Regions from separate parts of the Homo sapiens genome. Here regions 1 and 3 are each reported to be linked to region 2. Evidence: microRNA targets listed by miRTarBase, many of them from high-throughput screens and not tested one by one. Region 2 holds a microRNA gene; each other region holds the end of a gene's coding sequence.
What was found. Region 2 holds the annotated microRNA hsa-miR-6727-3p (UCCUGCCACCUCCUCCGCAG, at 1,879-1,898, shown strand). A microRNA usually pairs through its seed, bases 2 to 8, with sites in the 3' UTR of a target mRNA and lowers its output. Matches are read on the target gene's strand: a 7mer-m8 pairs with bases 2 to 8, a 7mer-A1 pairs with bases 2 to 7 and ends in A, and an 8mer does both.

Region 1 (3,000 bases), not on the chromosome of region 2:
TCCACCTGTCTCGGCCTCCCAAAGTGCTGGGATTACAGGCATGAGCCACCACGCCTAGCCTGAAAAAATTATTTTAAATACTGATTTACTTGCAAATAAGGAATTAAAGTGTATGGTCACTTCTTAATTGAATAATTTTTTTTTTCTTAAATAGATCTCCTTTCTGTGAAGAAATAATCTGTTGCCGTGGAGACCAAGTGCGACTGGCAGTTCGTGTCCGAGTATTTACTTACCCTGAATCTGCATGTGCTGTTTGGATCATGTTTGCTTGTAAATATCGCTCGGTATTATAGGGCCAATATTTATATAAGATTTATACCTGTGTTTAATTGGAATTTTACACATTGTACATTACTTAGCTATTTAGAGGTTTGTTATTTTAAAATCACAATCTGGCTTGAATGGCATACTTCAATTTTGTATATACTTGACTGGTAATGTTTAAAAAAAATCATGCATTCCTTTAAAAATTAAGGCTGAAAAACTTGTATAAATCTCCCTGGAATTTAGTATAAATTAAGTGTATATTCTATTTTAATAAATGCTACTTTGTTTACAGTTATCAGTAGTTTAAATATTAATATAAAATGCATTCAGTTTTCTTTACACAAACAGGTAATCAAAGAGATGTTTGTCTAAGGGTTTGAGCCCTAGACAAATCAGTATGATCATTACTTTTCACAGGTTAATGGAATTATTTTATACAGATTAGGAGAAATTAACCTCATGACAGATTTATTTATTGCATTGGTGAAAATAAATGTTAATGAATTACCACTTTTGTGGTTTATTCGTGGTCCTTGGGATATTTGAGACTGTCCAGAAATTTATGGTTGGACCTTGAAGCAAGAGTAGGAAAAAACTAATACCAGAAAAGCATAAATATTAATAACCTCATATGAAAGTACATGAATCATTTAGAAATATTTATCACTGTGATTTGTTGTAAAAATGAATTGGGTATTTTAGAAAAACTTTATTATACCTCTTTGTTATGATACTGATAAATTGTGATCTTGCAGTCGATCACTGATTTTCTGTGGTCAGAGGATTCATTATTAGCCTCTTCATGGATTCTATCTTCTGAAACCCTTTTTTCTTTCATTGTGATAAAAAAATCAGCATATATGTGACTAATCTAAATAAGAGATTGATTGTGTGAGACCACTGAAAACAAGCATATGTGAGTGATTCCATACTGATTTTTGTTTTAAAATTGAGCACGTTTTAAAAATTTTGTAAGGCTCGGCGTAGTGGTTTATGCCTGTAATCCCAGCACTTTGGGAGGCCGAGGTGGGTGGATCACTTGAGGTCAGGAGTTCGTGACCAGCCTGGGCAACATGGTGAAACCCTGTCTCTACTAAAAATACGAAAATTAGGCCGGGTGCGGTGGCTCACACCTGTAATCCCAGCTACTCAGGAGGCTGAGGCAGGAGAATCGCTTGAACCTGGGAGGCAGAGGTTGCAGTGAGGTGAGATCGCGCCACTGCACTCCAGCATGGGAGGCAGAGCGAGACTGCATCTCAGAAAAAAAAAAAAGGGCCAGGCATGGTGGCTCACACCTGTAATGCCAGCACTTTGGGAGGCTGATGTGGGTGGATCACGAGGTCAGGGGTTCAAGACCAGCCTGGCCAACACAGTGAAACCCTGTCTCTACTAAAGATACAAAAATTAGCTGGGCATGGTGGCATGTGCCTGTAGTCTAGCTACTCAGGAGACTGAGGCAGGAGAATCGCTTGAACCTGGGAGGCGGAGGTTGTGATGAGCCAAGATCATGCCACTGTACTCCAGCGTGGGCAACAGAGCAATACTCCATCTCAAAAAAAATGTTTTTTATAAGTTAATTTTAAGTAGCTAGGCATGGTGTCACACACCCATAATCCAAGCTACTCGGGAGTCTGAGGCGGAAGGATCGCTTGAGTCCACAGAGGTGGTGAGCTAAGATCGCGTCACTGCATTCCAGCCTGGGTGACAGAGCAAGACTCTGTCTCAAAAAAAAAAAAAAAAAAAAAAAAGAAAGTGTGAAACCTGATTCCTCAACTTATTTTAAAATTTTATATATTAAAAAAAGTGTTAAGTGAACAAAAGTAAACTTTAAAAAGAGTAGCAATTCAACTTTTTGCAAGAAGCTGCATAATACATGATATGAGGGGTTTGATTGCCCATTTAGCACTTCTGTGCATAGTTCTTTTCATTTTTTTTAAGTTTTTTATTTTTTCAAAGAATCTTTGTTCACTCTGATATGTGTAGTTCTTAATTTAGTTGCTTTATCCATTGGTCTTAAGAAAGTAACTCTATACCAGTTGGCTATCCAAGTTATTAATTCTTTTAATCACTTTAATTCACCCCTACAAATAAAATGATTTCGTTTTTCGAAAATTAAAATCTAAAAGTGTCTTAAAATTTACTTTTTGGGCCAGGTGTGATGGCTCACACCTATAATCCCAGCACTTTTGGAGGCTGCGGCCAGAGGATGGCCCAAGAAGTAGCTCAAGACCAGCCTGGGAGCATAGAGAGACCCCCCCCTATTTCTCTAAAAGAATAAATCTACTTTGTTTTATTTTTATGTATAATAAATATTCAATTTGTTTAAAAAGTCTGAAATATTATGATCCCTCTTCTACAATTTTCATCAAAAATGGTAATCAGATGTTTCTTGTGAGACTGACATGACTGTAGAAAATTAGCAAAATAATAATTGAAGCTTTTTTTAAAGCATAGTGGTTCACACCTATAATTCCAGTACTCTGGGAGGCTGAGGCAGGAGAATCTCTTGGGTTCAGGAGTTTAAGACCAGCCTGGGCAACATAGCAAGAACCCCTCTCTACAAAAAATGTAAAAAATTAGCAGGGCGTGATCGTGCACACCTGTGGTCCCAGCTGCTTGGGAGGCTGAGGTGGGTGAATCACTTGAGCCCAAAAGATTGTGCCACTGCACTCCAGCCTGGGTGACAGAGCAAGACCCTATCTCAAAGAAAAAAAAAACTTTTTAAAAAAGTTA
Region 2 (4,389 bases):
TGTGCCCAGGGCTCCTGCCTTGTGTCCCCCTCAGGTGCTGATACCTGTGTTCGCGCTGGGCCGCGCCCAGGAGCTCTGCATCCTCCTGGAGACCTTCTGGTAGGTGCCGCCAGGACGGCTCTTTAAGGAGCCCCTGGCCCGGCCTGAACACAGTCCAGTTGGTGGGCAGCCCTGTCCAGCGTAGCGGTGGCATCTTGGCCCTGCTTGCTGCTGTCCTGGGGGGCCGCTCGTGTGCTGTGTGACCCCAGGAAGCCTGTGACATCCCGTCAGCGCCACCGTGTGCGGCTCTTGTAGGGGTTCCTGGTTCTCCGCTGAGCCCGGCTGCTGCAGGGCTTAATGGGACAAGTGGTCGCGACTGGACTCAACCTGGCCCGTGCGTGGGCTGTGCAGACACGGGTGTTGGGGGTGACCCGGCCGAGTCCTGCCCTGCAGCATTCTCCCCTGTGGCCACTGTGCTGACTGGGCCGGTGGTCCCCAGGGAGCGCATGAACCTGAAGGTGCCCATCTACTTCTCCACGGGGCTGACCGAGAAGGCCAACCACTACTACAAGCTGTTCATCCCCTGGACCAACCAGAAGATCCGCAAGACTTTCGTGCAGAGGAACATGTTTGAGTTCAAGCACATCAAGGCCTTCGACCGGGCTTTTGCTGACAACCCAGGACCGATGGTGAGGCCCGCGGCAGGGCCGGCCAGCACATCCACACCCGTCGGTCTCCTGTCTTCCGCAGGTGTCTGGGCTTGGGCCTGCAGTGGGGGTGGGGGCATCTGCTGCCCTGACCCCCCACCTGGCCCTGTGTGTCCTGTAGGTTGTGTTTGCCACGCCAGGAATGCTGCACGCTGGGCAGTCCCTGCAGATCTTCCGGAAATGGGCCGGAAACGAAAAGAACATGGTGAGGGCATGGTGAGGTGTGGGAATCTGGAAGCTGGAGGCCGACGGGTTGTCCTTCCACCCATGCTGTCTCTGAGCTCTCACTGGCTTGGCCTCGTGCTGGCCAAGGGACGTGGCTGCTGCTGCTGGGGAACGGGGGCGATGTCCGCCTGGAGCTGCTCAGTCTCTGTGACACAGCTTGTCCACCTCGGGCAGAACAGCCCCAGCCCAGCCCTGGACAGTCTTGTGCCAAAACCTGAGCCCTTTGGAGTCTGCAGCTAGGCTTGGTCGGGCGCCGCTGGCAGGTGGAAACAGCTTCCAGGGGTTCAGGCGGGGGCATCCCGGGCAAGGCCTTGAGGTGCCAAGGCTGGAGTTCCCTGGCTGTGAGCTCTGTGCCTGCCCCCAGGTCATCATGCCCGGCTACTGCGTGCAGGGCACCGTCGGCCACAAGATCCTCAGCGGGCAGCGGAAGCTCGAGATGGAGGGGCGGCAGGTGGTGAGTCTCGACCCCGCACTGGGCTGGCAGGGCCGAGGGGCACCTCCTGGTGGTAACCACTGTCCACGCCCCGTGGCCTCTGTAGCTGGAGGTCAAGATGCAGGTGGAGTACATGTCATTCAGCGCACACGCGGACGCCAAGGGCATCATGCAGCTGGTGGGCCAGGCAGAGCCGGAGAGCGTGCTGCTGGTGCATGGCGAGGCCAAGAAGATGGAGTTCCTGAAGCAGAAGATCGAGCAGGAGCTCCGTAGGCAGCCGGGCGGGCGGCGTGGGGCCCACCTCGGGTCAGCACGGGCAGCCTGGGCTGAGGCTCTCTCTTCCCCCGGGGTCCAGGGGTCAACTGCTACATGCCGGCCAATGGCGAGACGGTGACGCTGCCCACAAGCCCCAGCATCCCCGTAGGCATCTCGCTGGGGCTGCTGAAGCGGGAGATGGCGCAGGGTATGCGGGCTGGGCAGGGCAGGGCAGGGTGCTCGGGGCAGGCGGCTGGGAGCGGCCCTCACATTGATGGCTCCTGCCACCTCCTCCGCAGGGCTGCTCCCTGAGGCCAAGAAGCCTCGGCTCCTGCACGGCACCCTGATCATGAAGGACAGCGTGAGTGCCAGGACGGTCTCTGGAGGGGGGAGGGCCGCTGCTGCGCTCACTGACCTGTCCCTGCCCCACAGAACTTCCGGCTGGTGTCCTCAGAGCAAGCCCTCAAAGAGCTGGGTCTGGCTGAGCACCAGCTGCGCTTCACCTGCCGCGTGCACCTGCATGACACACGCAAGGAGCAGGAGACGGCATTGCGCGTCTACAGCCACCTCAAGAGGTGGGCGCCCGGCCCCGCCCCCCCCCCACTCCCTTGGGCCCTGGAGGCCAGGCAGGGTCTCACCGAGCCTCCCCACAGCGTCCTGAAGGACCACTGTGTGCAGCACCTCCCAGACGGCTCTGTGACTGTGGAGTCCGTCCTCCTCCAGGCCGCCGCCCCTTCTGAGGACCCAGGCACCAAGGTGCTGCTGGTCTCCTGGACCTACCAGGTAAGGGGTGACCCCCACCCCACCGCGGTCAACACAGGTATCAACATTCCTCCCTGTCCTGCACCACCCACAATGCTTTTGCCTCTGCCCTAGGACGAGGAGCTGGGGAGCTTCCTCACATCTCTGCTGAAGAAGGGCCTCCCCCAGGCCCCCAGCTGAGGCCGGCAACTCACCCAGCCGCCACCTCTGCCCTCTCCCAGCTGGACAGACCCTGGGCCTGCACTTCAGGACTGTGGGTGCCCTGGGTGAACAGACCCTGCAGGTCCCATCCCTGGGGACAGAGGCCTTGTGTCACCTGCCTGCCCAGGCAGCTGTTTGCAGCTGAAGAAACAAACTGGTCTCCAGGCTGTCTTGCCTTTATTCCTGGTTAGGGCAGGTGGTCCTAGACAGCAGTTTCCAGTAAAAGCTGAACAAAAGACTACTTGGTACTCTCTTCTTGGTGTACATGGCTGTGTCCTGCACTGTGCCCCATCCCGCCTGGGACAGAGACGGGCATCCAGGGTGCTGGGACCCGGGCAGGGAGGCTACTGTGGAGACCAGGCAGCAGTGCTGTGGGCCCCAAGCAGCTGTGACTGCCCTGGCTTGACCAGCACAGGGTTGGGCCTGGTGTGGCCTAACTTTGGCTTGAGTGTCCAGGGTCATCCGTGGCTCCCGAACTGTGGCCCCTGCAGGGTGCAGGAGGCAGCACCTGTGGACGGACCAGACCCTGCGTCAGCCTGGGGCAAGACCGGCCCAGCACCCTCCCCACCGCTGAGACCACTCCCATGACCAGGGAGTGGGCCAGCCCAGGACGGGCTACGGGCTGGCCTGAGGGACTGCAGCCCTGGGCGGGGGGCTGCTTCACCCCCAGTTGCTGCCGTCAGTGGCCCCTGGCCCCCCACCCCATGCCTCGGCCACAGTAGTCACTGGGCACATGACAGGAGCTTCTCGTGCCTGTTTTTCTTACCGAGGTTCCCGTACAGCACTGACTTGAGGAATAAGCCGTGGGCTGGGGCTACACGTGTCTGGTGCTTGCCCAGGGGATCTTGGCTCTCCAGAATCGTCTTCACCTGGGCAGGTGCCAAAGCCCCCAGCCCCACGGCCACCAGCACAGCCGTCATCCTCCGTACCTGTGACCCAGAGCCACCTGTGACCCAGAGCCGCCCGTGACCCACCAGCACAGCCGTCATCCTCCGTACCTGTGACCCAGAGCCGCCCGTGACCCACCAGCACAGCCGTCATCCTCCGTACCTGTGACCCAGAGCCGCCCACGACCCAGAGCCAAGACTGCACAGGGGCCTGCCCACCCTCAGCCCCACCCCCTGGGGACGGCCCCAGAACAGAGCCTACCTGTCTATACAGGAAAGACTGGCTCTCAAACTCCAGGTTCCAGAACCGCAGCTTCCTGGAAAAATACGTACCTGTAGGTGTCTGTGGGGCAGTGTTTGCCATCCTCAGCCTACTATGTGGCCTTGGACGGGAGAGTGACAGGGTGGGCCTAAAGACGAGCCTGGTTCCCACTAGCTTGGCCACCAGGGGCCCTGGCTGATCTCCTGCCCCCAGTGAGGCCCATTGGAGGGGCTTAAAACCAGAGAAACAATGCTTGGGCAAGGAGGCAGCAGGACCCTGGAGGCTGGGCAGGTAGCCTGGCCATCCCAGAGGGGCTTGCCCTGGGCCCTCACCTAGGGTCCTGGTGCAGGGTCTGGGAACGTGGCTGGTGCGGGTGCCAGAGACCCCCAGTCCTGTACCTGCTGCTCTGCCACAGAAGTCTGGGGCTGGCAGAAGTTCTTCCCCCCTTCAGGGCTCACCCCAATAGGGGAGGTTCTGGTCAGAAGCTGCCACCTGGTGGGTGGCCCTCGGGACAGTGCTGGGGGCAGCAGAAACCACCCCACCAGAACCACTGGCACCAGTGAGACCTTTCCAGTAGCTGCCAACATTCTTCCATCAGGCATGGCAGGGGTTTTTCAGAGACAAGCAGCCTTCCCTGTTCTCCGCTCCCCAGCCTGGGGGGAGGGCACAGCTGGAGGC
Region 3 (3,000 bases), not on the chromosome of region 2:
AACTTGATCCGCATGGCCGTGGCAGGACTGGTCCTCGTGGCTCTCTTGGCCATACTGGTTGAAAATTGGCACAGCCATACGGCACTGAACAAGGAAGCCTCGGCAGATGTGGCTGAACCGAGCTGGAGCCAACAGATGTGTCAGCCAGGATTGACCTTTGCACGAACACCAAGTGTCTGCAAGTAAACACCTGGAGGTGAAGGCAGAGAGGAGCCAGGACTGTGGAGTCCGACAAAGCTACTTGAAGGACACAAGAGAGAAAAGCTCACTAAGAAGCTTGAATCTACTTTTTTTTTTTTTTGAGACAGAGTCTGGCTCTGTCACCCAGGCTGGAGTGCAGTGGAGCAATCTCGGCTCATTGAACCTCTTGGGTTCAAGTGATTCTTGTGCCTCAGCCTCCCAAGTAGCTGGAATTACAGGCACATACCACTGCACCCAGCTAATTTTTGTATTTTTAGTAGAGATGGGGTTTCACTGTGTTGGCCAGGCTGGTCTCGAACTCCTGACCTCAGGTGATCCACCCACCTTGGCCTCCCAAAGTGCTGAGATTATAGGCATGAGCCACCACGCCTGGCCAGATGCATGTTCAAACCAATCAAATGGTGTTTTCTTATGCAGGACTGATCGATTTGCACCCACCTTTCTGCACATAAGTTATGGTTTTCCATCTTATCTGTCTTCTGATTTTTTATATCCTGTTTAATTTCTTCCTTCATTGTTCTTCTCTTTTTTTATTTATTTTATTTATTTTTATTTTTATTTTTATTTGAGACAGAGTCTCACTCTGTTGCCCAGGCTGGAGTGCAGTGGCACGATCTCGGCTCACTGCAACCTCTGCCTCCTGGGTTCAAGTGATTCTCCTGCCTCGGCCTCCCAAGTAGCTGGGATTGCAGGCTCCCACCATCACGCCCAGCTACTTTTACAGTATTTTTAGTAGAGACGGGGTTTCATCACATTGGCCAAGCTGGTCTCAAACTTCTGACCTCGTGATCTGCCCGCCTCGGCCTCCCAAAGTGCTGGGATTACAGATGTGAGCCACTGCGCCCAGCCTTCTTTTTATATTTTTAAATGTGTCTTCCCCAAATATAAATGGTTGGTAAGCATGCCAAATATATTCAATAACCCCCCTCCTTTATTTTTTTTTGTTGAAGTGAGGCTCTCCCTATGTTGCCTAAGCTGGTCTTGAACTCCTGGTCTCAAGCAATCCTCCTACCTCAGCCTCCTGCTGTGTTCATCTACAAATTGATAAGAGTGAAAGTCATAATCCTACAGGAGGATTACCCTATTTATTTCACAAACCCTATTTCTACCGGATTTTCATACAAGGAATACAGGCATGTGTTTCACCTCATTAATTTATTTTTTCACTTAGTTTTGATGATATTCACATATATTATCAAGTGTGCAAACATTAAATTCTTGTGTACAAAACTCAAATGGTCTTCCAAATAATTCCCCATTCTTTTTTCTTATAAACTTTCACAGCTTTACCCTTGACAGACTTTACTCAAGGAAATCTAAGTTGGTCATATGTGGCTCTTTCACTGATTGCTATTTACTTCATTGTCCAGTAGCTTATGTATGAAAATATAATTATAAAATGTAAGGGTCCTACTTCCAGTGAAACTGAAGGGACTTAGGCCCACTTTTATCCTTTACTGAGAGCTTATCTCTACTTGATAAAATTTCTACTGTATTCTTGGCTTAACTCAGGTCCTGTGATTAAAAAAAAAATGCAAAGTATTTCTAACTTTCTTTATTGACTGCTTTTCACACTTTATACAAGTTCTGGCCCATATCTTCAGTTTGTTCTGATTTTTTTCACCAGGTGTGGTGGCAGGTGCCTGTAGTCCCAGCTACTCCAGGGGCTGAGGCAGGAGAATGGCGTGAACCTGGGAGGCGGGGCTTGCAATGAGCTGAGATCACGCCACTACACTCCAGCCTGGGCCACAGAGCGAGACTCCGTCTCAAAAGTAAACAAACAAATAAATAATAAATAAATAAATAAAGGGAAAGTGCCACAATTTTGGATGAAGGGGGTTGAGGGACTTTACGTCAGGTCCAGGACTTGGATTACAGAGACACAATGGGGCTAGATTCCCAGAGATGGATAAGATTAAACTCATATAAGTCGTTTTGCTGACAGAAGGACCTTGTTTGGAAAAAGCGTTTTCAGAATAATAAAGTTCCTGAGCTCTTCAGAAAAGTATTTTATTGTCCTGTAACCACAGTAACAAGTAGCCACCAAAACTGATTTTTAACCCATCATCAATGACAACTCATCTCTGTGAAGATGCTCTTTTTTTTTTTTTTTTTTTTTGAGACGGGGTCTTGCTCTGTCACCCAGGCTGGGGAGCAGTGACGTGACCTCGGCTCCCTGCAACCTCTCTTTCCCGGGTTCAGCAATTCTCCTGCCTCAGCCTCCCCAGTAGCTGGGATTATAGGCACCTGCCACCACACGCAGATAATTTTTGTATTTTTAGTACAGACGGGTTTCGCCATGTTGGCCAAGCTGGTCACAAACTTCTGACCTCAGGGTGATCTGCCTGCCTCAGCCTCTCAAAGTGCTGGGATTACAGGAGTGAGCCACAAAGCCCGGCCACTCCATACGTTTTATATTGTTATGTTACCATCAGTCAGGCAGCTCCTTGCTTCTAAAAGTCATCCAATCAGACTCATTTCAGTAAACACCCAAGCATGAGTGACAACCAATCAAAGTAATATCTTCCCAATGACCACACTTTTCCAGATGACGTCAAGCCACAGAAGGCCCTGAAAATCCAACAATCTCTGAAGTATACATTTCCCAGGCTGAGCGCAGTGGCTCACACCTGAAATCCCAGCACTTTGGGAGGCTAAGGCAGGCAGATCACGAGGCCAGGAGTTCGAGACCAGCCTGGCCAACATGGCAAAACCCCGTCTCTACTAAAAATACAAAAATTAGCCAGGTGTGGTGGCACGCACCTGCATTACCAGCTACTGAGGAGGCTGAGGCAGGAG

Region 1: the mRNA of CEP76 is a reported target of hsa-miR-6727-3p. The part of its 3' UTR that is shown has no 7-base or 8-base seed match.
Region 3: miRTarBase lists FCAR as a target of hsa-miR-6727-3p. The part of its 3' UTR that is shown has no 7-base or 8-base seed match.

The regions. Positions count from the first base shown.
Region 1 is chr18:12,670,658-12,673,657 of GRCh38, reverse strand. It overlaps CEP76 (centrosomal protein 76), which reads left to right. Exons shown (of 12, transcript NM_024899.4): 12 at 155-1,033. The coding sequence ends at 293. It also overlaps a transcript of PSMG2 not described here. Among named protein-coding and RNA genes, the nearest start is that of SPIRE1, 14 kb to the right of the region's middle.
Region 2 is chr1:1,310,011-1,314,399 of GRCh38, reverse strand. It overlaps MIR6727 (microRNA 6727), which reads left to right and starts at 1,834; the gene lies at 1,834-1,898. It overlaps PUSL1 (pseudouridine synthase like 1), which reads right to left. Exons shown (of 8, transcript NM_153339.3): 6 at 3,712-3,766; 7 at 3,329-3,491; 8 at 2,723-3,070. The coding sequence ends at 3,021. It overlaps INTS11 (integrator complex subunit 11), which reads left to right. Exons shown (of 17, transcript NM_017871.6): 8 at 35-99; 9 at 479-668; 10 at 808-891; 11 at 1,276-1,365; 12 at 1,451-1,613; 13 at 1,700-1,807; 14 at 1,899-1,960; 15 at 2,032-2,174; 16 at 2,253-2,382; 17 at 2,476-2,800. The coding sequence ends at 2,541.
Region 3 is chr19:54,889,678-54,892,677 of GRCh38, forward strand. It overlaps FCAR (Fc alpha receptor), which reads left to right. Exons shown (of 5, transcript NM_002000.4): 5 at 1-1,743. The coding sequence ends at 186. Among named protein-coding and RNA genes, the nearest start is that of NCR1, 15 kb to the right of the region's middle. RefSeq lists an enhancer at 2,962-3,000.